Homo sapiens: one gene and its partners. The protein of the gene in region 4 purifies or fractionates together with the protein of the main gene of each other region. This does not show direct contact. Each region holds a gene or a part of one and is shown on either strand. Other genes may lie near its edges. The genes, in order: COL14A1, ATF1, SORL1, OGN, HSP90B1 and DNAJC13.

Region 1 (5,524 bases), on a different chromosome or scaffold from region 4:
ATAGAAAGGAACTTCTTCAATCTAATAAAGGGCATCAATGAAAACTCCATAGCTAGTATCACACTGAATGGTAAAATATTGAATGCTTTTCTCCTAAGATCAAGAATAAAATAGGGATGTTAACTATTACTAGTTCCACTCAACACTGTACTAGAGGTCCTAGCCAGTGCAATCAGGCAAGAAAAAGAAATAAAAGGCAGAAAGAATGGGAAGGAAGAAGTAAACTGACTCTATTCACAATCAACAGGGTTGTTTACCAGAAAATTCTAAGGAATCTACCAAAAACAAAACCCTACTTGAACTAATAATTTAGAAAGACTGACAGACAAGATCAGTCAGCAAAAAATCAATTGTATTCTTATATAATAGCAGAAAATAAATAAAAAGAAAAAAATTTTAAATTTATTTACAATGACATCAAAAACATAAAATAGTTAGAAATTAATATGACATGCAAGGCCTCTATACTCTTCAGAATACCAAAATATAAAAGTGTATTACTGACAGAAATGAAAGAAAGCCTAAATAGAGCAGTGCACCATGTTCATGGGTTAAAAAAAAAAAAGTACTCTGTTAGAATGTCTTTAAGATAATCTATAGATTCAAAGCAATTTTAATCAAAATCTCAAAAAAGTCATGGACAAATATTCTCTAAGACAGTTTGCTAAAAGTTAAACTGCTGGTTATAAAGTATGCTTATTCCTTTTAAAAAGTATTAATGGGTTGGGCACAGGGCTCACACCTGTAATCCAGCACTTTGGGAGGCCAAGACAGGCAGATCACCTGAGGTTGGGAGTTCGAGACCAGCCTGACCAATATGGTGACACCCCATCTCTACTAAAAATACAAAAATTAGACAGGCTGTGGTGGTGCGCTTCTGTAATCCCAGCTATTCAGGAAGCTGAGGTGGGAGAATTAGTTGAACCTGGAAGGTGGAGGTTTCAGTGAGCCAAGATTGTGCCACTGCACTCCAGCCTGGACAACAGAGGGAGACACTGTCTCAAAAAGAAAAAAAAAAGTATTAATGCATATTGCCAAATTGGTCTCCAGAGAGATTATGCCAGTTTATATACCACCAAAAGTATATGTGTCTATTTTTCCATAAACTTGCTGGCTCTGATATTTACAAATTCTTTCATGTATGAAAAAATTGTAGTTCAACATATAACATCACCATGGCTAAAAGTATGACTGCACATCTTTCATTTACTTAAGCTGTCTTTTGTTCGGTGAACTCTCTAGCATATCCTTGGTCATTTTTCTATAGGATTGTTCATCTGTTTTTTGTTTGTTTGTTTGTTTTTTGTGATGGAATCTCACTTACTCTGTCACCCAGGCTGGAGTGCAGTGGTGCAATCTTGGCTCGCTGCAATTTCCACCTCCCAGGTTCAAGCAATTCTCATGCCTCAGCCTCCCAAATAGCTGGGATTACAGGCATGCACCACCATACCCAACTGTTTTTTGTATTTTTAGTAGAGACAGGGTTTCGCCATGTTGGCCAGGCTGGTCTCGAACTCCTGACCTCAAGTGATCTGACTTCCTCGGCCTCCCAAAGTGCTGGGATTACAAGCGTGAGCCACCACACTCAGCTAGGAGTGTTCATCTTTTTATGAGAAATTTTTGTATTTAATATGTGGCTCTTTTTCCATCATATATGATAAAACACGTTGCCCAATATTTATTTTTTTTCTTTTTTATCTCCTATGGTTTATGACATGCATATAAGTCTCTTTCTCCTTTGGAATTATAGCATTTTCCTATATTTTCTTTTAGTATTCTTACATTTTCAATTTTTAAATTGAAATCTTTGATCATCTAAAACTTATTTTGATGTAAATGAAAAAGTTTTAACTTTTATTCTCCATGTCTATCCAATTAGTCCAATACCACTTATAGAATAATTTACCTTTTGATCACAGGTTAACAATGCTATATTTTATTTTCGAATCTATCGATTTTCTATTTATGTGTGACTATTAAGTAATTGTAAATATCAAAACTTTATAATATGTTTTAATATTTTCTTTTAAGTTTTCTTTCTGATTATTTTTGACTAGGTACCAAAAACTCCTCAAAATTGGGATCATGTTAAATTAGTAGACCAATTTAGGTAGATCGACCTTTTTTATACAATAGTCCATCTTTACATCAAAAAAGAATATATTCTTTGTTTATTCAAGCCAGTCATCTTCATTTCTTCATGAGCACTTTAAAGAGTTATATAAATTTGACATTTTGAGTTTATTTCTACATATTATATACATATATGTTTTATTTCCTGTTAATGGATTTTTCTTAATCACTTTTAAACAAGTTGTTTATTAATTATAGTAAAGCAATTTTATTTTTATATTAATTTTGTAACCTACCTTGAATAGTTTAACATTTTTTCAAAGTCTTAAAGTTTGTAAAATTGATTTCCTTAATTTTTTCTGTAGATGATATCTTTCTTCTTACCTTCCAAATTTTATGTTTTTCATTTCTTTCCCTTTTCTTATTACTTTGGCTACTATCTCCAGAATATTTATCCTGGAAACTTTGTCTTGTTCTTATTTTTAATAGCAATGCTTCTTTGGCATGACTTTGATTTTGAAGACACATGGCTAGACAGACTGTTAGAGAAGACAAACACAAATATACTGATATAAATGTATCATGTTTAGTAAATTTCCATCTGTGTAAACTTTATTGAGCTATTAATCTGAAATAAAATGTTAAATTATTGTAGTAGTTATGAAGAATATCCTCTAACTTTTTTCTCTTAACTTTTTAACATGACAATTATATTAATCCATTTTCTAATACTAAACTTACCTGTAAAATTTGAGCCCAACTTGATCATTGTGAATTATTCTTTTGGGTTCTATTTACTAATATGCTATTCATATCAATAAGTACATCAATATTAGTGAAATTAATCTGTAGCTTTTCTTTTTTATTATGCTGTGTCAAGTTTTGATATCAGTATTATTTTTTCCAGTTTTATAAAAAATAACAGAATTTTTTCTTCTTTCTCTATACTGTACTTTGGAACAGTTATTTTTTTTTTTTTTATTTTTTTTTTGTTTGAGACGGAGTTTCGCTCTGTCGCCCAGGCTGGAGTGCAGTGGCGCGATCTCAACTCACTGCAAGCTCCGCCTCCCGGGTTCACGCCATTCTCCTGCCTCAGCCTCCTGTGTAGCTGGGACTACAGGCACGCGCCACCATGCCTGGCTAATTTTTGTATTTTTAGTAGAGACGGGGTTTCACCGTGTTAGCCAGGATGGTCTCGATCTCCTGACCTCGTGATCCGCCCGTCTCGGCCTCCCAAAGTGCTGGGATTACAGGCGTGAGCCACCGCGCCCGGCCGGAACAGTTATAATAGCACGGTATTTTTATTTTTTTACATTTTCATTAGCATTCAATTGCAAAACCATGGGGAGAGTTCAGTACTCTTGGAGAGGTTACTTTTTAACAACTTTTTCAACATGTTTGTGTCTAATGTTTTATTCATAATTCCTGTATAATAAAAAATCAGTTTTAGTAATTTGTACTTTGTTTAAAAATAACTCATTTCATATCATTAAAATAAGAATACTGCCCAAAACACAGCCTGGGTGACAGAACAAGACTCTGTTTCAAAGAGAAAAAAAAGAACGTTACCCAAAACAATATCCAGGTTCAATGTTATTGCTATCAAACTACCTACATCATTTTTCACAGAAATAGAAAAAAAAAAAATTCTAAACAAAACCAAAAAAGAGCCTCAATAGCCAAAGCAATTCTAAGCAAAAAGAACAAAATTGAAGGCATCAAATTATCCAACTTCAAACTCTACTACAAGGCTACAGTAACCAAAAAAGCATGGTACTGGTACAAAAACAAACACACAGAAAACGGAACAGGTTAGAAAACACAGAAATAAAGTCACACACCTACAACCACCTGATCTTTAACAATGTCAACAAAAACAAGCAATGGGGAAAGGACTACCTCTTCAATAAATGGTGTTGGAATAGCTGGCTAGCTGTATGCAGAAGAATGAAATGGGACTCCTACCTTTCACCATATATGAAAATTAACTCAAAATAGATTAAAGGCTTAAATGTAAGATCTAACATTATAAAAAAATCCTAGAAGAAAACCTAGCAAATATCGGCTGGGCACAGTGGCTCATGCCTGTAATCCCAGCACTTTGGGAGGCCAAAGCGGGTGGATCATGAGGTCAGGAGATCAAGACCATCCTGGCTAACACAGTGAAACCTCATCTCTACTAAAAATATAAAAAATTATCTGGGCATGGTGGGGCATATGCCTGTAATCCCAACTACTAGAGAGGCTGGGGCAGGAGAATCGCCTGAACCCAGGAGGCAGAGGTTGCAGTGAGCCGAGATAGCGCCACTGCACTCCAGCCTTGGTGACAGAGCAAGACTCTGTCTCAAAAAAAAAAAAAAAAAAAAAAAAAAGAAAGGAAGAAAAAAGGAAGAAAACCTAGCAAATACCATTCCAGACACAGGCTTTGGCAGTGAATCTATGACTAAGTCCTCAAATCAACTGCAACAGAAACAAAAATTGACAAGTGGGATCTAATTAAACTAAAGAGCTTCTGAATAGCAAAAGAAACTATCAAGAGAGTAAATAGACAATCTACAGAATAGGAGAAAGTATTTGCAAAGTATGGACCCAACAAAGGTCTGATATCCAGAATCTATAATGAACTTAAATTATTCAACAAGCAAAAAACAAATAACCCTATTAAAAATGTAGGCAAAGGGCATGAGCGGATATTTCTCAAAAGAAGACATACAAGCAGCCAACAAACATGAAAAAATGCTCCACATTGCTAATCATCAGAAAGATGCAAATCAAAATCACATTGAGATACTATCTCACACCAATCAGAATGGCTATCATTAAAAAGTCAAAAAAAAAAAAACAGATTTGCAGAGAAAAGGAAATGCTTATACACTGTTGGTAGGAATGTAAATTGGTTCAGCCACTGTGGAAAGCAGTTTGGAGATTTCACAAAGAACTTAAAAAACTACCGTTCAACTCAGTAATCCCACTAATGGATATATACGCAAAGGAATATAAATAATTCTACCAAAAAGACACATGCACTCCTATGTTCATCACAGCACTCTTCACAATAACAAAGATGTGAAATCAACCTAGATGCTCATCAATGGTGGACTGGATAAAGAAAATGTGGTACATATACACCATGGAATACTACACAGCCATAACAAAGAACAAAATCATGTCCTTTGCGGCAACATGGATGCAGCTGGAGGCCATTATCCTAAGTGAATTAACAGAGGAACAGAAAACCAAGTACCACATATTCTCACTTATAAGTAGGAGCTAAACAGTACACATGGACATAAAGATGAGAAAACAGACAGTGGGGACTAATAGCGAGGGAAGGAAAAAAAAGGGGGTGAGGGTTGAAGAACTACCTTTTGGGTACTATGCTCACTACCTGGGTGATGGGATCATTCATACCCTAAACTTCAGCATGACACATATACCTATGTCATAAACC
Region 2 (4,805 bases), on a different chromosome or scaffold from region 4:
GGCTCACGCCTGTAATCCCAGCTGAGGCGGGCAGATCACGAGGTCAGGAGATCGAGACCATCCTGGCTAACGTGGTGAAACTCCATCTCTACTGAAAATACAAAAAAATTAGCTGGGCGTGGTGGCGGGCGCCTGTAGTCCCAGCTACCCGGGAGGCTGAGGCAGGAGAATGGCATGAATCTGGGAGCCGAAGCTTGCAGTAAGCTGAGATTGCGCCACTGCACTCCAGCCTGGGCAACAGAGTGAGACTCTGTCTCAAAAAAAAAAATTTTTTTAACTGTAAAACAGCCTCAAGGCAGCCCCTACAGGAGGTATTCCAGAAGAAGGCATTGTTATCATAGGAGATAACAGCTCCCTGTGTGTTATTGCCCCTAAAGACCTTCCAGTGGGATAAGGTATGGAGGTGGAAGACAATGATATTGATGATCCTGACCCTAGGCTAGTTAGCCTAGGCTAATGTTGGTGTTGGTGTCTTAATTTTTAACAAAAAAGTTCAAAAAGTAGAAAAGTTATATTTGGTTTTTGTGATTTTTTTTTTTAAGACAAGGTCTCACTGTGTCACCCACACTGGAGTGCAGTGGCACAATCTTGGCTTACTGCAACCTCTGCCTCCAGGGCTCAAGTGATCCTCCCAGCTCGGCCTCCCAAGTAGCTGAGACTACAGATGTATACCACCACACCCAGCTAATTTTTTTTTTTTTTCTTGTAGAGGTGGGGTTTTGCCATGTTGCTTAGGCTGGTCTCAGACCTGGGCTCAAGTGATCCATCCACCTGCCTCAGCCTCCCAAAGTGCTGGGATTACAGGCATGAACCACTGCACCCAGCCCCCAAAAATTTAAAATTAGCTAGTACAACCACTATGAAAACCAGTATGGAGACTTCTCAAAAAACGAAAAATAGAAATCTACCCAAAGGAAAAGAAATCAATATATCAGAGGGATACCTGTACTCATAAGTTTACTTGCAGCACTATTCACGCACAATAGCTAATAGAATCAACTATGTGTCCATCAGTGGATAAATGGATAAGAAAGAATTAAATCATGTCATTTGCAGCAACATGGATGGAATTGAAGGTCAGTATCTTAAGTGAAATAAGCCAGGCACAAAAAGAAAAAATATCACATTCTCACTTATATGTGGGAGCTAAAATATTTGAACACATGGAAGTAGAGAGTGGAAAAATAGGGCTGGGCGTGGTGGCTTATGCCTGTAATCCCAGCACTTTGGGAGGCCGAGGCGGGAGGATCACTTGAGCCTAGGAGTTCAATGCAAGCCTGGGCAACATACCCATTGCTACAAAAGATAAAAAATTAGCCAGGCATGGTGGCGTGTGCCTAAAATCCCAGCTACTCGGGAGGCTGAGGTGGGAGGATTGCTTGAGCCCAGGGGGTTGAGGCAGCATGATCGCACCACTGCACTTCAGCCTGGGCAACAGAGCAAGACCCTATCTCAAGAAAAAAGAGAGAATGGAAAAATAGGTAACAGAGACTGGGAACGGTGAGGGGCAAGGAGGAGGATGAAGAGAGTTAAAGGGTACAAACCCATACACAGTAAGATAAAAGGAATAAATTCAGTGTTTCATAGCAGAGTAGGATGACCACCCTTAACAAAAACCTATTAATACTCAGGTGATGGACACCCTGAATCCCCTGACTTGATCGCTACACATTATATACATGTAACAGATTTTCTCATGTGCTCCATAAATATGCACAGAAACATTTTAATGGAAAAAACCATACAGGCCAGGCGTGGTGGCTCACACGTGTAATCCCAGCATTTTCGGAGGCCAAGGCAGGAGGATCACTTGAGCCCAGGAGTTTGAGACCAGCCTGGGCAATATAGGGAGACCCCATCTCTAAAAAAAATTTAAAACATTAGCTAGATGTGGTAGAGGCAGGAGAATCACTTGAACCTGGAGGCAGAGGTTGCAGTGAGCCATGATCACGCCATTGTACTTCAGCCTGGGCAACAGAGCAAGACTCTTGTCTCAAAAATAAAACAAACAAAAAAAAACACACAAGTAGTTAATAATCATATAAAAGACTACTCAGCCTTATTAGTAATCAAAGAAATACACATTAATGCTACACATTTAGATACCCTTTATACCCACCCAATTGGCAAAAATTTTAAAGTCTAACCAAGAGTTGGCAAGGATTTGGAACAATGGTCAGGAATTCATAGATACTACTATAGGAGTGTAAATTGATGCAGCCATTTTGGAAATTAGGCCTTATCTTGTACAGTTGACGTGGGTATACTCTGTGACCCAGCTGTTTTAGTCTGTGTGACTGAGAGGAACTTGGAGGAAGTATGTATAAGAATTTTCATAGCAGCAAAAAATCAGGAAACAACCTCAAGATTCATTGATAACAGAATAGGTACATATTGAGCCTAAACATAAAAATGGGGGGAAAAAAGAATAGGTACATAAATTGTGACTGTATTTATAGAATGGAATGTTTATTTGTAATGACTGAATGAATAATCATTTCAACATGAATAAATCTTAGAAAAATTGAATGAAAAAACAAGTTGCAACAGAATACACAAAGTATGATATTTTATAATTTTAGAAAATAAATGATAGCAGTTTTAGGGTCATATACGTATATACTACAACTATAAAAATAAGAAATGAGATGTCACGTAGCAAAAATTATAAAGTGGTAATACTGTCTGTCATTGGGCATATAAGGAAAAGGGTACCTCACATACATTACTGAGGGAAGTACGGAGTTTTATGGTATCTACTTGCCCCAACATTTCTACTTGTATGTGACAAAAGATACCATAAAGAAACTTAAAAATAAGTCTGTTAACTGGGAAAAATATTTGCAACTTTTATATAAAGAGAAAGAATTACGAGATGTATAGGTTATATAAAGATTTATTTCTGTAAATAAGAGACCTAACAGAAGGAAACCGGTCTGTGAAAGATGGCCTTGTAAACATGAAATTATTCCAAACTTTGTGCATAATGAGGGAAATGTTAAAGCAGTGAGGTTCGCTTTTTGTCAGCCGCTAGACTGACAACCATTTTAAAATGTTCATAACAGGCACTCTCATGTACTGCCCCTGGGAATGTAAATGGTACAAATACTCTGGAGGACATTCTGGCATTTTTTCCCTTTTTTCTTTCTGGTTTGACTCTGGGATTTTTTTCCTTCCTTTTTTCCCCCCTTATTTCTCTGTACTTCAATGAATATAAATTGGCACTATCTCTTGACTTTAAGTGAATATAGCTTGTGATCCTTCAAGAAATACATGTGTAGAAATACACGTAAAGAATGGAGGCTGAGTGGGTGGCTCATGCCCATAATCCCGACACCGTGACCAGGAGTGAGACCAGCCTAGGCAACATACTGAGACCTCATCTCTACAAAAATAAAATTAGCTGGTGTGGTGGTGTACACCTGTAGTCCCAGCTACTTGAGAGGCTGAAGTGGGGATATCTTGAGTCCAGGAGGTCAAGGTTGCAATGAGCTGTGATTGTGCCACTGCACTCAGCCTGGTTGACAGAGTGAGACCCTGTCTCAAAACAAAAGAAGAAAAAAGAAAAAGAATGTTTACTGGAAACCACTTAAAACAAACAAACAAACAGAGCTTAAAGGTAAAAATAAAGTCTTTTTGTGAGGGGAAAGATTTTGTACAGTCCTTTTAAAGATGTGTACTAAAAAGCAAGTTGCAAATAGTATCTACATATATAGCATAAAAATCTTAAAATAGTACTGTTTCTTTCTTTCTTTCTTTTTCTGAGACAGAGTCTTGCTCTGTTGCCCAGGGTGGAGTGCAGTGGCGCGATCTTGGCTCACTGCAACCTCCACCTCCCAGCTTCAAGTGATCCTCCTGGGTCAGACTCCCAAGTAGCTGGGATTACAGGCATGTGCCACCACAGCTAATTTTTGTATTTTTAGTAGAGATGAGGTTTTGCCATGTTGGCCAGGCTGGTCTCGAACTCCTGACCTCAGGTGATCTGCCCGCCTTGGCCTCTTAAAGTGCTGGGATTACAGGCATGAGCCACCATGCCTGGCCAATACTTCCGATTTCTATATGTATATAAACTTACATATGACTTCACAGAAATGTTTTAAGAGGACATGCACAGAACTGAGTATTTGCTCAAGCATTGTTTGTAATTTGAACTTAAATAAAAGAAGTCATGTGTCAGAAGTTAACCAGAGGACCCATAATTTCACTCTTTGGTATTTATTCAAGAGAAATGAAACCTTTCTACAAAAAGACTGGCACAAAAACATGCCTATGCAGCTAACCCTAGAAACATCGCAAGAGACTGGATACACAAATGGTGGTTATATTCATACAGTGAACTATGTCCAGCAGTGTGAAGGAACAAACCCCCATGCAGCAACATGGATGAACCTCAGATGGGCTGAGTGAAGGGACACCAGAGTACATAGTGTATGACACTCTTACATGAGGTTCTAGAATAGGAAAAAAACTAATCTCTGGTGATAAAAATCAAAACGATAGTTGCTTGGAAGGGGGCTGACCAGGAAGGGGCATGAGGGAACTTTCTGGGACAGTGGGAATGTTCTGTTGTCTTGACAGAGGTGTGGGTTATACAGGTATACACAATTGCCAAAACTGACTGAATTCTACACTTAAGATCTATGTATTCTCTGTGTGTAGATGATACTTTAAAGAGAAAAAAAGGTGACCACGGAAAATTACTGAAGAACATTTACCATTTAAAGAATGTGAAGTTTTTTCTAACATTGTTTTTTTAATGCTCATATTTAGAGAAGCTGCTCGAGAATGTCGCAGAAAGAAGAAAG
Region 3 (5,524 bases), on a different chromosome or scaffold from region 4:
TATAGTCTTGCCAGAGTTGTCAAACATCTGTTCTTCTTACTGCATCAGAGACTGTTCTTGTACCTTAAGTTAATTTAAGATTCTCTCCACCATTGCCCTCTTGCATTTTTTGTCTAGTTTCTACCTCTACGTTCCTCCTCTAGATATTTCCTAGTACTTGGTACTTAGGAGGAGGTCATCGTCATTAAAATATGAGGCATATCAGCAATTTTGTGGCTAAGTTTTTTTCTTTTTGGAGACAAGGTCTCACTCTGACACCCACACTGGAGTGCAGTGGAGGCGCAATCACTGCTCACCACCTCAGTCTTCCCAGGCTCAGGTGGTCCTCCCGCCTCAGCCTCTCGCATAGCTGAGACTATAGGTGTGTGCCACCATGCTCAGCTAGCTTTTTGTATTTTTGTACAGAAAGGGTTTTGCCGTGTTACCTAGGCTGGTCTTGAGCTACTGAGCTCAAGCAATCCACCTACTTCAGCCTCCCAAAATGTTGGGATTACAGGTGTGAGCCACTGCACCTGGCTTTGTGGCTAAGTTTTTAAGAAATTTACCAAATTTATGTGTCTAAGAGAGTTCCTCGCCTCCTCCCTACTTCAAAGTAGTTGACATGAGCAACTGTCTGCTTGAATGTCATCTTTTTTCATTGCCTAAAGTATCCTGAATATGCTAGCGCTAAACTCATTAAGGAGCCTGCTTTGAAGATGATCAAATTCATTTGGATATAGAAATTCTGTGATGTTACAAAATTAGTCTTATTTTTTGGTAGTCATGCCCACAGTACAGTTTTTGTTGTACAAGAAGCAGAGGCAGCAGGTGCTGTCATTGACAATTAAGATCTCAGCATGGAAGTCTCAGGGTCAGTGGTGACTCAGCCTGCCCAAGTGATTCTATCCTGCAGCCCTTATGAGCCACAAATTTACCACACACTCAACTGAGCCATGATGTGATGTGTGGACGGCACACCTTGCTTTTTGGAAGAAGAGGAAAAGTGTCTTTTCAATGTGACGACCAAGCTAGCAGCCTTTCTAGTGGATAGTCTCAATGCCGGCTGTGGAGTCGTTCTTGTCCTTGTTCTAAGCCCAGGAAAATTCCTCTGGTTGGCTGCTATGCAGATGGGTTTTAACCTTGAGTTGACTCTTTTTCTAGTGCCAGATGCCCCTCGAAATCTCCAGCTGTCACTCCCCAGGGAAGCAGAAGGTGTGATTGTAGGCCACTGGGCTCCTCCCATCCACACCCATGGCCTCATCCGTGAGTACATTGTAAGTACCTTCCATGAGTTGGCTGTATGTGTGTTGGGGGTGCTAGGAGATTTCTGGGTATTCTGTATGACGAGGGGGTTGATTTGGTTTAGCTTTGTAGGTGATGACCCATCCGTCAGAACATTTTGCTCCTCACCATCTTTTCTCTCCTCCAGCCTCCTTGCAAGATATTAGGATGCCCTGGACCTTTGGTTCCCTTTACTCACATTTTTTTTCTTCTCCCTTTAGGTAGAATACAGCAGGAGTGGTTCCAAGATGTGGGCCTCCCAGAGGGCTGCTAGTAACTTTACAGAAATCAAGAACTTATTGGTCAACACTCTATACACCGTCAGAGTGAGTGTCGTCATCCATTCCAGCCATCCATGCAGTCTTAGAACTGAGCGAAATTGCTGCTGTTTTGTGAGAACTCTCTACTCACCTTTGTGAGATGCATATTAGTAATCTGCAAAATACCCAACTTCTTGCCCTGGGACGGGGGAGCTCAGAGTTTCTTTCAGTCTCTTAAATGGACACCACAAAGAGCTTGACATCAGAGTTTCTGTAGATAACCGGGCGTTTATGGGAATGCCGCTTTCCCTGCTTTTAACTCCGGTATTCTGCTAGCTTTCCAGCTCCTATACTTTTGCAGTCAGCTCTTTCCTGCTTATCTTTAGCTGCAGGATGATGCAGAGCTATGATAAGTAGTCTTTCTAAACTGATTTTATGAGGTTCTTATGAAATATATTTTTAGTATTTTTAGCAGAAAGAGATAGATTTTGTGAACAACATGTTTGCTGAGACCATTAAGTGTGCACATTCATGACTCTCACACTGATAATTTTGTCAGTACCCTTTTTGTATATGTGTGTATTTATGAACACACCCCCCCATACACCTGCCCTTTAGAAGAACCTTGATATTTGTGGATCAATAGAAATTTTCTGATCTCAGGACTGTCATAATGCCCTTTACCCAAGCTCCTTCCCTTGGCTTTTTTGCCCTCTTATTTCAGATGCTGGGGCCTCTGAATATTCTGGATCACTCTGTATAAAATTTTTCCAGCCTCACTGCCAAAATCTCACCCCTTTAGCTCATTCAGTATTCTTACTGTATGGTGTATGGTGTATTGCCTTTATTTCATATTAATTCACCCTCTGATTTGAAAAGGTGGCTGCGGTGACTAGTCGTGGAATAGGAAACTGGAGCGATTCTAAATCCATTACCACCATAAAAGGAAAAGGTAAATGATCCCAGCATTTGCAGATTTAGAGAAAATATTATACAAACCCTTTCAAATGACTTTCAGTATGACCGGAAAATGGAGAAACGTAGTTTAGAAAAACATCACACAACTTTCTTCTCCCCAACACACGCACATTTTTGGGTGTCTCTGTAGTGCTTTAGATAGAGTCTTTTTGGGGTGACTGAGTGTCTTTTTCCTCCTAGTATTGAGCATTTCTTCTAATGCAGACATACAAAGGGATTTCCAAAGGCCATCATGCGCAGCCCTTTGTGAGTAGTCAAAATATCTAAAATAGAAGGAGTCCTTCCTTCTCACCAAAGCTGAAGATGATTTTGTGCATGTTCACTTACGGGGTTTTAAAGAAAGCACCATGCTGACTCTTGTTATTCTCCCAGTGGCACTGGCAAACTGTGTGTAGGTGGTTTTTTATCTTGTACTAGAGCTGATATTAGTAATAACTGATGGCTTGCCAAGGGCAGGACACTCTAGAGTGTTCACTGCTTTGCGTACATCAGCTCATCTAATTGAACAGTCAGAACAACTACAAGAAAGGATAAGGAACTGGAATGAGGTTATGTCACTTGTCCCAGGCCACACAATCAGTAAGTGACAGAGCTGGCCCTGGAACCTGATCTGCCTGACTCCAAAGCCTGTGCTCTTAACCACTGTGCTCCACGCTTCTCTCTGGGCTGAGACACATGCGGCCTACTGGACCGCCCTGCTTGCCGGGGGTGGCGGGCTCAGCATCTTGCACGAGTGCCTCATGAGGGCAGAGATCTGGTCTGTTTTTCTCTACTCTATCACGGGCATCTAGTAGAGACTAAGGAAATAATTGATGATTGAGTGAATCGAAGCAGTTAAATGAAGGGTTCTGGCATACTTTGGGAGATGGACTACAACTCATTTTCCAGAGTGGTTTTCCTGACCTTAGCCTTGACACTGGGGACTTGCATTTCTGGACTTCCAGGTATTAAAACCAGATGGACACTGTGGCATGCAATAGGACTGGAAGATTTTACTTTAACCTAAGCCTGTGAGGAATAGGCTCTGGGTCATGGAGAGTCACTATCTAGTCCCCTCTAAAATCTGGAGCCTTTGAGATCAGGGCCCAAGGCGGCCAAACGTAGTGCCACCAGATGGTCTTTGGAGCTGAATGCTTGCAGGTATTAGAGAAAGCCTGCTGAATTCACACTCTCCTAGAATTTTTATTGTTGTATCTCTTCTCTCTACAAAGTCTGTTTCAAAACACTGACCACACATACCAAGAAGGGATGTTGGAAGAGCAACCAAATACATGTACCTTGAATTCCGAAGGCACAAGTCACAACTGCATTTGAAAATCTCAGTGGATGGTTGGTTCTCTTTAACTTCTTTTCTGTGATTTTGATGAATCTCAGCTGCTTGCATATATTTGGGCTAGGATTTGTACAGAAGGCAGCTGTGTGCCACATCCAAAAAGTGTTTGTTGTAAAATATCTGTGACATAGTATCATAATAACGTTTTAAGATAAAGGACAAAGACAGCAGAGGCATCAGCCAGACGCGCCAGGTTAATTGGTGAATGTAGTGGATTAGTAATGACAATGAGAAAAGCCACCATTCCCTGAGCACTTCTTATACACTAAGCACCATGCTATTGTTGCTCGTGAATGGATCCCTTATTAATCCTTATGAATCCTATGAGATAAGTATCCTTATCCTCATTGTGTAGCTGAGGAAATGGGTTTGGAGTGGATTGTGACTTGTCCCTGGTTGCCATGATTATAATTCAAGTCAGCTTTACCATATGCAGCACTCGCACTGTTTTGCTCTGTGTTGGCCGCCTGAAGCTTCCAATATCCTTTCTTCTTCCGGTTATTGCATTTTCCTGAAGCCTAGTTTTATTACATGATTGATCATCTGGACAGACCTCTTCAGACTTTGACACATCTCTTTTGCCACCAAATCTTATCTGCTCCTTTGAGTCTCTCTTGCCCAGTCTATAGAAGGGGCATATGTGTGGAGAGTCTAATATGCAAGTTGTTGTTTAAATAATATTTTCTGATAATATTGATCCATTGAGCTCTTTTAGATCATGCTGGGCCAAGCACTGTCAGCCATCTGGTGGGAAGACCTTCCAGATGACAAGCATGGCGCTCATTGGTTGAACTGAGAGGGGTCTTTTCCTTGGCCACTTCTCCTTGCCCCCTCGACTCTTAGCTTGAGCTCCAGTCTTTTTGAGAGCACCAGTGGTTTCTAGTTGTTTAGTTGGCCATATGTGACGCTATATTGGAAAGGAAGAGAAAGAGAGTATCAGTTGAGTGCTAGGCATCACACATACATTATTTTAGTTAACCTTCCCAGCTCTGTGAAATGCAGATAACATCTCTAGGCTCCAGGAAGATCAGTAACTTGCCTAGGTTACACAGATGCCAGAACAGGAATTCGAACTCAAGTTTGCCAGCTTCCAGAGGCCACATTCTTTCCATTTTGCCACACGCACGTTTACCATTTACGATTTACTCCATTGTCAGCCTTCCGAAAGGACTTGAGATTGGTGGGACTTTGTTAGTGCCAATCAAGATGCCACTCGCAGTGAATGATCCCTGTTCCTTTAAGAACCAGGCTGAAGCTGGGCTGTTTTGGGACCTTTACAAAATGGAACTTTTCTGCCTGACCTAATTGCCAGGATAGCCGACTGAGCCAAGATAGTTTTGTGTTCACCAAGCAACTGTGGACCAACCTTAGCTTCAGGAAAACAGTGGTAAAAAAAGATCGATGAGGAACACTGCCAAAGAAATACCCTTTCTTCCCCGACTGAAAGATGGCTTTGTCCGTTGAGTTGAAAACTATTAAGTCCTGCCTTCCTCACTTTTCATCACGTGGCTTCTGTTTTTGAATTCCTTTTTGTTTTCAGTGATCCCACCACCAGATATCCACATTGACAGCTATGGTGAAAATTATCTAAGCTTCACCCTGACCATGGAGAGTGATATCAAGGTAATGTGGGAATTTCAAGCCAGCAGCTGGATGGGGCTTTATTTTGTATGGGAACTGAAAGGACATAGCA
Region 4 (4,197 bases):
GTCCTGGCACAGAATTGGCGCTCAATAAACTTTTATTAAATGAGTGAATGCTAATAACATTGTATTCACTGGTCATAACTTTTCAAGGAAAGTTGTTCTTCACAAAATAATTTTCTGTAGTACAAAGCATCAAAGTGTACCATTAATGAAACTATGAATCTCTAAGATTCTCTAAATTTGGACATATGGTATCTATCCAGCTTACTTCTCAATATCTTGTTAACTTGCCACACAATACAAAACAAATCAATGTCTGTTGTTTCATTATTATATATTTCAAAGTATTTAAAAAAGTTTTACTGTATCCTTGAAGCCATAAAACCAACAATTTATATCAACTCAAGCCAGACAATATCACAATTAAATTTAAGATAATTCACATTCAAATAAAAACTTCAGTGCTCAAGTCTTAGTTTATTTAAGCTTTGATTTGAAAGGTTCTAAAACAATTTTGTCTAGAAAAGAAAACAAATTGTTATTCTTTCATTTTCTATTTTAATAAAATATATATCCATATTTGTTAAATTTTTAGCTTAAAGGAGAAAAGTTAATTTGATTGGTAAAAGCACCAAGGAGGAATTTTTTAAAAGTGACTCTTTAAAAAAATCTTCAAAGTTGCTTGTATGGTATCTACAATGCCACTTTAATTTTTAAAAGCCAATTTCAATATTAAAGTAATTTTATAAAGTTTCCTTCATTCAGCAAACAAAAGTATCTTTTACTATCAACCTCAAAAACTATAAATCAAATTTACTTTTAAAAAGCTAATTTTTATGCATCAGTTTTTCTTATATGTAACTAAAATAAAGGGGAGAAAAAATCCAAATGACAAAACTATCAAATAATTTGTGCTAAAACTAATTTTTACACTGGAAAAATATATTACACTGGCTATATATTAATTATGGTATTAGGGCAATATTTTTAATCCTCATAAAATTAACAACATGGACTATGTTGTCATTTGGTGTCCTATTTCATTCAAAAAGCAGATTGTTTGATCTCCTGGGAAATCACCAAAATGAAAAGGATGACTTTAAAACTATATCATTTTTCATAAACTAATATTCACCAAAACATGAATGTTTATTACACAATAATAAAATCACACAAGTTTATAGTCAAATTAGTTGAAGCAGACTGAGTGCAGCAGTTACAACAAATAACTTAAGCACAGTTCTCTAGTACAACACACTGCATTTCACCCTAGAGAAAGAATGCTGGCAAAGATCTCTACCACATGGAAACTGTTCTTAAAGCTGCTGGGCCCTGAAATTTTACTCAGCAGTTTGAAATCAAGACATAGCTTTTCTCATTCACCCTCCCACTTGGGGCTAATGCACAGACATGAACATCTATTGAGGAAAACCACAAAAAACTTCAAAACAGCTACAACGGTAGGCTTACTTTTCATATATTATTTTAAATATTGTTTGTTAAAGTGCGACTGACTCATCTAATAGTCTTAATAAATGTAAAGGCCATCTCTGGTTTAAGTTTCAGTTACCTCAATTAATTTTTAAGAAGTACTTATGTATATCATCGCATAAATTTAACATCCACGCAGGCAAGAATAGGGTGCTGCAGAAGTCACAAATCCATTATCTTCTTCATTTTCAACCTCTGGATTTTTGACAAACTGGCATCTATAATGCAGCATCAGCAACTCTTGAGTGATTCTGTTTGAAGTTACTTAAGAAAAAGTCTGAAATGTGTACCCACCAGAGAAAATCCATTGATGAGCCTAAAGGAATCCTTTCTATTACATTCCTCAAAGTTCTTTGATTAAAGTTCGGTATTTCCTCTAGCCTGCAATACTATTCTTTCAGTTTTCTTAGCTTAAATTAAAAATACAATACTATTAACTAAAAATTATGATCACCTATTAAAATTACAAAACTAAGAAAATTAAAAACGTATGGCTTTTCCTATATTCTGTACCACCTAAAGGTGTTAATGACTACTTTTCATAATGTTAAATTTAAGTTTTAAAACTTTTCTTGGAACTTGTTTCTGTTCATACCAATATAAATCAAGAGTTCTTATAAAGTAGCTAAGTGGAAATATGATATTTTTAACTCACATGAGACAGGATCTTGGGACTTTATTTTAACTATTTATACTACAGGTATCCTAAGAATATTTCAATTAAATATTAGTATGTCTGCTGAAGGCACTTAATTATTAAGAAACTTAAAATTATCAATCTTTCTTGAATTTCTGATAGAGAAGTAAAACTATTTTCCAAAACTATTTTTCAGAATGTTCACTGATACATAAAAACTGCTAGCATCTAATTAAAGATCACTAAGGGTTAAATACTGTTCTCTGGCCCTTACTGCGCACACCCTGCCAAAACATCCTCTAAGCTTTTAAATATTGCTTCGATGGTCTGAATTTTTATTTCCAGGGAAAAAGAGAGTTTTGTCCCACAGTCAGCAGGCCACTAGTTTATTAACTTCCAGTCACCTTGATTTTTGCTAAAATGAAGACTCTGCAGTCTACACTTCTCCTGTTACTGCTTGTGCCTCTGATAAAGCCAGCACCACCAACCCAGCAGGACTCACGCATTATCTATGATTATGGAACAGATAATTTTGAAGAATCCATATTTAGCCAAGATTATGAGGATAAATACCTGGATGGAAAAAATATTAAGGTACTTTATTTCTATTCTAAATTTAGCTTCTAAAATACTGCCCATTTAAATGCATGTTTTTGCTTTTCCTGAATGTGTCTGATAAGGTAAGGGGAAGGGAAAATCACTTTAAATGATTCAAACGAATTCATAATAATTGTCCCTAAGATTGTATTTTTAGAGTATGTATGCTTTCCAAATTAATAAATGGTATCTATGGTAACCAAACAGTATCTATAGTAACCAAAAAATAAAACTTAAAGAAAACTAGACTTTAAGATGATCCCTCACCAGTTGCAATTTATATATTAAGTAATGTTACACAATGCCCTATACTTGCAATGTTGTGTTGCCTCAAAAATAAATTAGCGGAAATGTGTATTTGGAGAAATAAAGATGAATTATCAGCTTAAGGTTATTATTATAGAAAACAATTTGAAGAAAATACATAGAAGAGTACTGGTTATTTTGATATCAATAGCATTCCACAATAATTTATATATGCCATCTACATACAGTACCAAAAACTGAAAACCTAGTCAATATAGGACTTTCTTTTTAAATCAATTTTAACAGTTTAGACCCTCTATCAATTGGTACCAAGTAACTGTAACTGTCTTTGAGTTAACACTGCAAGGGTGACGTTATACCACATCATTCATTCCCCACCTTTATGGGCAAACTAATTACTTGTGGTTTTCTTGGCACACAGAAATGAATGCTGGGTAAGGAAAAAGTTAATACAGCACTTAAGTATCTGTTGCCCACTATGTATGACACATACACATACACACTGGAAAATGAGAAATTCAGCCAAATATATAACAATACTGATTGTTTCAGAAGTTCTTCTCCACTATAAATTGGAGGATAAAGACTTATAAGATTGACCAGTTATAATTGCTACTTTCTCTTTTCTTTTTTGCAGGGGTACACAATGAGCAAATGTTAACACCACAGTTTCTTTCTTTCAGTTAATGCTTTTAATATGATAGCATTATTTTTGCCCATCACTAAGACACAAAGGATAGGTATTACTAATTATAGCTTCAAGTTAAAGAAAAAAAAGTCCCATCATAACATAGGCTATTGGCTCACTTGGATGATTTGAATCTATTAAGATTCCCTGATCCCTAAAGAGTTTAGAGATTATTTTTCTCTCTGCTTCTTCTCTTTACAGGGCTTTAGAAGTTTCTCTATCTTAATATAAATGCAGGGTCTAAGATATTTGTGGAGTGGAGTAGAATTCAACAGGACTTGATGTGCAAACACAGAGTAGAGGGAGGAAGTTCAACCACCACACAGATGGGAGAATGAAGGTGAAGGGCAGAGTCAGGAGTCAAGACCGAGACTAAAATGGAACATGCTTACAAAGGACAGAAAGAATAGGACACCACATAATACACTGTAATCTAATGGCAGAAAACGTACTCTCCAAGAACAGGAAAGACAGGATCTAAATTGTATCTACTCCAATTTCCCCAGAATTAATGGCCTACCCCAGTGGCCCAAGCAGGGTAGGTAAGGTAAGCTGGAATAAAAGGGATCCAAGAGCCAGG
Region 5 (3,500 bases), on a different chromosome or scaffold from region 4:
AACTTTATCAATGCTAGTTTTGCATCCTTAAGAGTTACAAGAAGGGATCAATAAAAGAAGAAGAAAAAAAAAAACAGGCAAGGAAACATAAATTTAGTAATTATTCCCAGGCATAGGATCTCACAATAAGTGTTTGATGTCATAAGCAAGCTCTTTAAAGATTATATTAAAAGCCACTTAACAACATGATTTCATGTTTTACGGGTTTTGTGGTGGAAATCACACATCTACCTATGTAGGTGGTTCTTAATCTTTTTTTGTCACACAAAACCCTTGGCAAGCTGGTGAAGGCTACAGATGCCTTCTCAAAATAATTTTTTTAAAAAAATCACATATTACAAAATACACAGGAATAAAAAGGAAACCAATTGTGTTTAAACAGCCATAAAACTGTTTCAAACATTCTTGATTTTGTAGTTTCACTATTCACTAAGAGCTAGGACTAATTTTAATAACTGCTGCAATTTTGAAGTAGTGATGAGTATAATAATTCAACTTAAGTAAAAATGGTGTGTTCTGGAAACCAATTACTCTCAAAGACCATCTCTACTGAGGTGTCAATCTCAAAGGTTCATAAATGTGATTTTAATTGTGACTAGGTCAATAAACCAGAAGTAGACATATTATAGTTGGCCTAAAGGTCTTTTTTTGAATTTTCTCACTGGGAAAAAATGGGAATGGACCATCTCATATTCATGGTCACATACCATATACAATTAAACTAAGAGGGTGATATTTTGTCTATTCATTAATAACCAGAAACTAGGGAATTATAAATATTTACCTTTGAAAATGATTTGTAGAAAGCTTTGTATTCATCTTCTTCTACTTCTTTTGATGGTCTCTGCCATATTGGTTTGATATCATTCATAAGTTCCCAGTCCCAGACAGTTTTTTCAACCTGAAGTTATTATAGTATTTGATTAGTCTCTCTCAGCACTCACCAAGGTTATCCTAGCAGTAACCATGGCTTCAGTAGATTTCAAAAGACTATGTAAAGACCCAGAGGACTGGTGTGGTGGCTCACGCCTGTAATCCTAGCACTTTGGGAGGTTAGGGTAGGAGAACTGTTTGAGCCTAGGAGTTCAAGACCAGTCCAGGCAACATAGCAAGACCTCCAACTATACAAAAAATTTTTAAAACTTAGCCAGTCATGGTGGCGTGTGTCTGTGGTCCTAGCTACTTGGGAGGCTGAGGTGAAAGGACTGCTTAAGCCTAGGAGTTCAAGGATGAAGGGAGCTATGATCGTGCTACCACACTCCAGCCTGGGTGGCAGAGACTCTGTCTCCAAATTAAAGAAAAAAAAAAAAAGGGCACCAAAGGATACCTGTTATCTAGTAAGGTTTCTGCCAACTGTATCAAAAGCAAAGTATTTTTCTCAATATTTAATTCAAAAAGACAATTGTTAACTGATGAAAAGCCACTTAAGTTTTTCTTCATTGTTATTTTTTAACTAGCAAAAATGTTTCTTGAAAATATTTGTTTTGAGGTTAGAAGGAAATACATATTATATATTCCCATTTCATGACTTAAAGAAATCCAACATTTTACAAAAATATTTCTCAACCACCATGATCAATACTTCTTAGTCTGCTACCTAAGCAAGCCAGAGAACCATTTTTATGGTTAATCTCTGCATGATAAAAAGACAAAAGAGGACTCAGAAGGCTTTTTAAGATTTTAAAATTCCAAACATATAAGCCACCAGTCCTAGGCAATATATAAAAGTTAGAAAACTCTTCATAAAAATGACCTGGGTTTGATACTTAAAACTTTCTACAGGACAATGTATTCAACATACAAACAAAGGCCTTATTTTAAAAGCTGGCTCCATGGACTTAGCACCTGAACTGAAGCTGACTTCAAATCAGCCAGTGCATACTTAGGTTTTCCTGGTTTTGCCTATACATGTTAAACAATATCTTATGCAGGGAGATAAACCAGACTTACTTTTTTAGTCTTTGGTTTCTTTTCTTCTTCTTCTTCCTCTACTGCAGCTTCATCATCAGATTCTTCTTTCTCTTCTTTGGCTGCTTCTTCTTCCTCCATGGGCTCCTCAACAGTTTCAGTCTGTTGAAATAAGAGAATTATGGTTAAACTCATTTGTTTAACAATTCTGATTTTGTCTACAGAATATGATATAACATTACAGGTCAAAAAATAGGTTTTTGTAAGAAAACCCTGAGAGTATCCTTAACTAATAGACCACATTTTGCCTTCATTCTTTTTTTTTTTTTTTGAGACAGAGTCTTGCTTTGTCACCTAGGCTGGAGTGCAGTGGGGCGATCTTGGCTCACTGCAACCTCCGTCTCCCGGGTTCAAGCAATTCTCCTGCTTCAGCCTCCCGAGTAGCTGGGATTACAGGCGTGTGCTACCACACACCCAGCTAACATTTTTGTATTTTTAGTAGAGACAGGGTTTCGCCATGTTGGCCAGGCTGGTCTCGAACTCCTGACCTCAGGTGATCCACCTGTCTCGGCCTCCCAAAGTGCGGGGATTACAAGCATGAGCCACCGCGCCGGCCTGCCTTCATTCTTTTAGTGTTGAATATTTAAATACGTGCCAAGGTAATACATATAAGTTTTTAATCAATATAGATTTACCTTGCTGCTCCATACATAAATAGGAAAGTTTATGAACTGTGAATATTTTTTGACGAGATTTTTAATTGTATCCAATTCAAGGTAATCAGATGCTTCTTCTTTTAAGACAAGGCTGCAAGAAAAATTCGATGTTTAGAGACACCTAACATTTAGAAGATCTGATTATAAATTCATTTAAATACCATGGTAATAGCCAGCAGTTCAGTATAATCCAAGATGTCCTAATTATTCATGTTAACTCTCCATCACCAACAAGGGTTTGTGAGCTAAAATGTAACACATGTAGATACAGTAAAGAGAAGAATCTCCTCTACATTACCTCAAGTGGAGAATAACCTTAGTTTTAAGTAGAAAATTAAAATATTCCCAACCGTCTGAATAGATTGTTTTCATTTTTCAAGGTGAGAAAGCACTGAAATATTCTGGAGAGAAATGGAATCATGCACTCTCATAGCTCTTACTGTTATTCCAGAAACCTAATGATTATTGTAGATAACTATTCCTAATTAATGAAAACATTTTCCTTAAAAAAGCTAGAAAATTAATCTGGTTTATATTTATATCTGCACTATCCAAAATGGCAGCCACTGGGCACATGTGACTTATTTAAATAAAATGTACAGTTCAGTTCCAGTTATGCTGCCACATTCCAAGTACTCAACAGTCACATGTGGCTGGTGATCGCCAAAATGGAAAAGTGCAGATATAGAACATTTCTACTATTATATAAAATTCTACCGGGCAGTGCGGGGATTACAGGTGTGAGCCACTGTGCCCGGCCTAGAACCTACTCTTAAGCACAGTAGGTAGTCCATATCTTGATACTTGTGTTCCCAATTAAGTATGGGAAATGGTCTATCTATGGTTCCCTCCCTGTCTCAAAAGGCTCATTAGTTT
Region 6 (5,524 bases), on a different chromosome or scaffold from region 4:
TGGAGGGCTCATTAAACTGTAGGTTGCTGAGCTCCACCCCACCCCAAGTTTCTGATTCAGTGAGTCTGGGGTGGTGGCCTGAGAGTATGTTTTTATAACAAGTTTCCAAGTGTCATTGATGCTGCTGGTCTGTGTATCACACTGTAAGAAACTGTACTAAAGCACTTGTGATCTGTTGGCTTACGTTTTCTTTCTTAGAGAATAGTTTATTGAACCCATATGTTTCCATTACCCAGCTTAATGCCATTCTTGTTTCACATATCTTCCATCCCTCACTCTCCTATCTCTAGTATTTTAATTGGCTTAACATTTAAGGTTGTAAGATAGGAAATTCATCAGGAGTTCATTAAGAGCTTTGTAGAGCGTGTCTTTCTATTTGACCTTTTGCTTATGCCAGCAAAATTCAGAATATAAAACGAGTACTGGCTGTTGAGTTCCATCCTCTATTTTGAAGTCCGTTGTGTAAACAGAATTGTGATATTCTGCTATGTTAATAAACTATACAAAATTACCTTAATCCAGAGGCCAGCAAACTTCTAAAATAAAGGTCCAGGGAGTAAATATATGAGTCTTTCAGGCTTCATACAGTCTCTGTTACATTTTCTTTTGTGACTTTTTTACAGCCCTTTAAAAATCTAAAAACCATTCTTAGCTCTTTGGCAGTACAAAGACCATGGTCAGTTTGGCCCATGGGTTGTAGTAGCTGTGGTTTGCCAACTACCCCAGCATTTATAGGAAATCTTAATGAGAAAGACTAGTGATCTAGTAAAGACATTCTGTTTAATTTTGGAACATTGTATATACCATTAAGCATTATTCACAAATTTCTGCTGGTTTGATTTCTATGTGTTAAATAAGGAATGCCTATGTGACTCTACTGGTTTTTTTGCTCTGTTGTGTTGTCTGCAGGTGTGTGGATACATAAGTAAATGCTACAGTGTGGCTGCTCAGTTTGAGGAATGCCGAGAGAAGATCACGGAAATGCCTAGCATCATCAAGGATCTCTGTCGGGTACTATATTTTGGCAAGGTAGGGTTAATCTTTAATGCTTTCTAGATACAGACAGCAAAGTGTCTTTTTGTCAACTAGCCAGTTCCTAATGTATAAGCACATTGTTTTCCCAAAGTTATTTGTAAGTAAAATTATTTGGATTTCTAAAAGCATTTTTCACAGAAGCCTTGCTGTAAATGGAGGCTTTGCTTCTAGGCTGGCCTACAAAGAAAAAGACTAAAGTGATACATCTAAAGGGAAGTGGGTTCCATCTGAACATTAGAATGAGTGGCAGGGAGAAAAGAGAAGCCTGTAATAAATAAGTCTTTTAAAAGCAAAAGGCCAGCCCGGTGTGGTGGCTCACGTCTGTAATCCTAGCACTTTGGCAAGCCGAGGTTGGCAGATCACTTGAGGTCAGGAGTTCAAGACCAGCCTGGCCAACACTGCAGAACCCTGTCTACAAAAAAATACAAAAATTAGCTGGGTATGATGGCATGCGCCTGTAATCCTAGGTATTCGGGAGGCTGAGTATTTGGCTGAAGAACAAGCAACTCCAGAAAATTCAACCATAAGGAAAAGTTTAGCTGGCATGCTGACACCCTATGTTTCTGTGGCTAGTGTGACTGAGATATATGCTTCAGAGGTAGCCTGTGCCACTACACTCCAGACTGGGCAAGAGAGTGAGACTCTGTCTCAAAAAAAAAAAAGAAAAAAAAACAGGGCCATGTAAAACCTGAAAACTAGAGAGTTCGGCACTGCTTGGTGGGAAAGGCTTTAGAGATCTGAGAACTTACTATTTCCTCCCAATCCAGACCTGCTGAGGAAGGTTGACTGTGGGTAGATGAGATAGATGACTGGGAGGGAGAGAGAAATGTCTTAAATAACTGGGCAGAGTGAGAATTGTCTTGAATAAAACAGGATCGAGATGCTGATCTAGTACTAAAGTATCAAGAAGTGAGGGAATTGATGAAAATATCTCCTCTACTATATCTACTTAATGTCCTTAGAAGTATTTGATTACAGAATAAAAAACTGACATAAATAAATCTTTTAACAACTGCACAAAATATGTCGTTACATTTAAGATCACTAGCGTGTAAGTTGCTATTGATGCCATGTCACTATTTTTAAAAATTAAAAATACAAGAAGTGAAACAGGAAACTATTCCCAAGTCTTCTGACATTAGCCTTAAAGGTAGTAATTCTGGTATCTCGTCATGAGGTCACTTTTAATTTTAGGCTTTAAAGGATGTAGGATTCAGATTTAAATTGGAATTGAAAATGTAAGAAGAGGTAAACATTTTACAAAATAACGTGGTTGGCTTGACATACATGCACAACCAGTTCCTCTTGGGAGCTTTTTTTTTTTTTTTTAACTCTGTAACAACTAATGCTCTCATTTTTATTCTCTCAGAGTATTCCCCGCGTAGCTGCTCTTGGGGTAGAATGTGTCAGTTCTTTTGCTGTGGATTTCTGGCTACAGACACACCTATTTCAGGCTGGAATTTTGTGGTATCTCCTTGGTTTTCTGTTTAATTATGACTACACACTAGAAGAGAGTGGCATTCAGAAAAGTGAAGAAACAAACCAGCAGGTAACTTTAACATTGCTTTAATATTGAATTTGAACCCAAACCTTAGGTTGGTGTTAAACTAATCCAAACCAAAGCTGCTATCCAGAGTCCCCAGAGATAAATTGTTTTTCAGGAAAATTAGGTTTTTTGCTTTTTAAACCTAATCACTTACTTACAAAACTTTTAGTTGTAATTGCTTATGCTTAAAGGATTCCAGGCAAGGGAATTTGCAATAGCATATACTGGACATAATTTAATAATTTCTTAATTACTCAGAGTCAACTTTATGATGGCAAAATTATGGTTGTGTAACACAGGACAATATAATGTTACCATCAGGCAGTTGAGGCTAGCTCCCCTAAACACTTGAGTACTTGTCTGATTTTTATAGATATTTTTCTGTCTCTTCTATGTGCTCTCATTTATTGCTCATATTGTAAATGTGTGCTTCTAGCAGGCAGGGCTGCCTACCTATCCCCTACTCCCCACATTACCACCAAATGTGCTTCTTCCAGTTGTCTGTGAGATATACTGCATTGGGTATAAGTTAGTACATAGATTCTCCTGGTCCTTCTTATAAATAAAAAACAAGCCCCAACACATAAACTTTCTGATGTTTACCTCAGTGGTAGGTACTCTTGTACCCTTTTGTTGGTTGACTTTTTACTCCTTAAATATGTTCCATATAGTGTGATTCTGTAAAATTATAGTATTACCTATGTAAGATAACAGATCTACTTTAACAACTTAATTTTTTTTATAACAGGAGGTAGCAAACAGCCTTGCCAAACTGAGTGTCCATGCTCTGAGTCGCCTTGGAGGGTATTTGGCTGAAGAACAAGCAACTCCAGAAAATCCAACCATAAGGAAAAGCTTAGCTGGCATGCTGACACCCTATGTTGCTAGAAAACTTGCTGTGGCTAGTGTGACTGAGGTATGTGCTTCACAGGTAGCCTGGGTTTTAATCAATAGTGCAAGATCCTTTAAGCAGTAAAGTAGTACAATAATATTGATCTAGGGAACCTAAAAATTAAGAACGTTCACATGTTTGTTCTCTCAAGCAAGAAATTCACTTTATAATGGATTGATGCTAATGATGTCAGTTCTACAAGTCCAGTTTTTGCAAGGGCAAATTAACTTTGTTTCTCAGCTGTGGAGCCTATCATAATTCTTACCAACCTTGAGTCACAAAGGGACAGGACGAGAGAGTGAAGTTGGAATGGTGTTTCACAATGGCAGACTACTGGGAGACAGGAGACCCAGAGTCTATTTCAAGCTATTTATTGTAAGCCATAGCTTATTCAGACACAGGGTTAAAATCCTGAAAGTAAATACATACATGCACATATACATGTATATGTATCTATGTACATACATAGATGCATTACAAAAATCAGTATGACATGATAGATCTCCCAACCTCTTTAACTTCTTTTGCAAGGATTATTGAGAAATAATCTGAGAATGTAGCACTAAAGAATTTGATAAACTATAGAAATCAGTTAAACAGGTTACTATTATCCTTTAATTATAAAAAAAAAAAGAGTACTAAAAGACATTAAAATAAATGAAGACACTAGATCCTATTTTTGGTATAACAAAATAAATGGATTGATAGATTTGTACCCATATGTTAACTGTAATTATTCCTGAATGGCATAATTATAGGCAGTTTTTCTTTTGTTTTCGCTAAGGATGAACTGTGACTTTTGTAAGTGAAAAAATCCTCAGGTTTCCAAAGTATTTTTACAACTTTTAAACAGGTTATTTGTTTTTAATCCAATGTGATTGAGTCCAATTTTCAGTGCTTGCCATGCTTTTCAGTTCCCATGTGTGAAAGGCAGGAGCTCTAGATGCTACTGGTTTTTTTTTTTTTTTTTAATTTTGTTTTTGTTTTTACTATTTTTCCTAAAACACTAGACGACCAGGGACCACTCCTGATGTTAGTTATTTTCCTGGACTTTTTGCTCACCAATGTGATACATTTTGCTGACTGAAAGCATTCTCTTCAGAAATGCCAACAAGTTTGGGATTAACCTTTATAGCCACCCCCACTAAAAATTTTTTATAGCATTTCAAAATTAAATGTTGGCATGAGCTCCAACTGGATTCAATAAAATGCTTAACTAGAAGTTAGCCTTTTGAAAACAAGGCTTGCATGTCTTTGTATAAGATGGAGGTCATAGTCCTCTGTTTTCCTATTAGCAGTAGACCTCTGTAAAAATAAAAGATTTTTATTCAGACATTTAAGGAATTGTGAAATATCTGTGTTTACATTTAAAATTGAGGAGAGCTCAACAATAGGAAAGCACACCAGATGCCTAAGCAGTCATAATCTATGCCTGCAGAAGGACTACACAGCCTTCAATATCAGGGTGTGGTCAGGAAAATCTGACTTTCTCCCCATAAATTTTATTTTCCTTCATACAGGTATGCTTCTTAAAGACTTAGGTTTTGTTTTCAAATACATGTACATAAAGGTATTATGTTGTGATTCTTTTCAAGCTTATAGTCACAGTGTGTTTATTAAGTACTTTCAAAATATTGAATTTCACCATGGCACAGCAGATTTTGAGAATGTTGAAGTCAGACTCAATTTCAAATCCTAGTTTCACCAGTTACCAGTTGTAAGATCTGGGACAAATAATTTAATGATTTGCAGTCTTAGTTTTTCTCAGCTGTAAAATGGATTATATCAATAAACTTGTTAGAATTATTGAGATACTTATTATTGAGGTCCATTATACTATAGGCAACTATTATAGTGTTTGGCCTATAATAGACATTTTTAATAAGTGATAATGTCAATAAGTTTTTTCACTAAATGTTATAAAACGGTAATATTGTCTCCTAGATTTTGAAGATGCTTAACAGCAACACAGAAAGTCCATATTTGATATGGAACAATTCTACAAGAGCAGAATTACTTGAATTTCTTGAATCCCAACAAGAAAACATGAT

The links.
Region 1: the proteins of OGN (region 4) and COL14A1 purify together in Homo sapiens (affinity purification with mass spectrometry, with the first as the bait; one large-scale study listed by BioGRID). This does not show direct contact.
Region 2: the proteins of OGN (region 4) and ATF1 purify together in Homo sapiens (co-immunoprecipitation; one large-scale study listed by IntAct). This does not show direct contact.
Region 3: the proteins of OGN (region 4) and SORL1 purify together in Homo sapiens (affinity purification with mass spectrometry; one large-scale study listed by BioGRID and IntAct). This does not show direct contact.
Region 5: the proteins of OGN (region 4) and HSP90B1 purify together in Homo sapiens (affinity purification with mass spectrometry; one large-scale study listed by BioGRID and IntAct). This does not show direct contact.
Region 6: the proteins of OGN (region 4) and DNAJC13 purify together in Homo sapiens (affinity purification with mass spectrometry, with the first as the bait; one large-scale study listed by BioGRID). This does not show direct contact.

Annotation. Positions count from the first base shown.
Region 1 is NC_000008.11:120,130,760-120,136,283, reverse strand, and holds part of COL14A1 (collagen alpha-1(XIV) chain isoform 1 precursor), read right to left. Parts: intron 1-5,524. UniProt on the Homo sapiens protein: Plays an adhesive role by integrating collagen bundles. It is probably associated with the surface of interstitial collagen fibrils via COL1.
Region 2 is NC_000012.12:50,814,865-50,819,669, forward strand, and holds part of ATF1 (cyclic AMP-dependent transcription factor ATF-1), read left to right. Parts: exon of another isoform or gene 1-1,076; intron 1,077-4,770; coding exon 4,771-4,805.
Region 3 is NC_000011.10:121,605,705-121,611,228, forward strand, and holds part of SORL1 (sortilin-related receptor preproprotein), read left to right. Parts: intron 1-1,140; coding exon 1,141-1,253; intron 1,254-1,481; coding exon 1,482-1,586; intron 1,587-2,399; coding exon 2,400-2,472; intron 2,473-5,371; coding exon 5,372-5,454; intron 5,455-5,524. UniProt on the Homo sapiens protein: Sorting receptor that directs several proteins to their correct location within the cell. Along with AP-1 complex, involved Golgi apparatus - endosome sorting.
Region 4 is NC_000009.12:92,401,696-92,405,892, reverse strand, and holds the start of OGN (mimecan isoform 2 precursor), read left to right. Parts: upstream 1-1,397; intron 1,398-2,128; exon of another isoform or gene 2,129-2,410; 5' UTR 2,411-2,485; coding exon 2,486-2,659; intron 2,660-4,197. UniProt on the Homo sapiens protein: Induces bone formation in conjunction with TGF-beta-1 or TGF-beta-2.
Region 5 is NC_000012.12:103,936,910-103,940,409, reverse strand, and holds part of HSP90B1 (endoplasmin precursor), read right to left. Parts: intron 2,716-3,500; coding exon 2,604-2,715; intron 2,071-2,603; coding exon 1,951-2,070; intron 902-1,950; coding exon 785-901; intron 1-784.
Region 6 is NC_000003.12:132,499,885-132,505,408, forward strand, and holds part of DNAJC13 (dnaJ homolog subfamily C member 13), read left to right. Parts: intron 1-909; coding exon 910-1,029; intron 1,030-2,404; coding exon 2,405-2,584; intron 2,585-3,329; coding exon 3,330-3,497; intron 3,498-5,417; coding exon 5,418-5,524.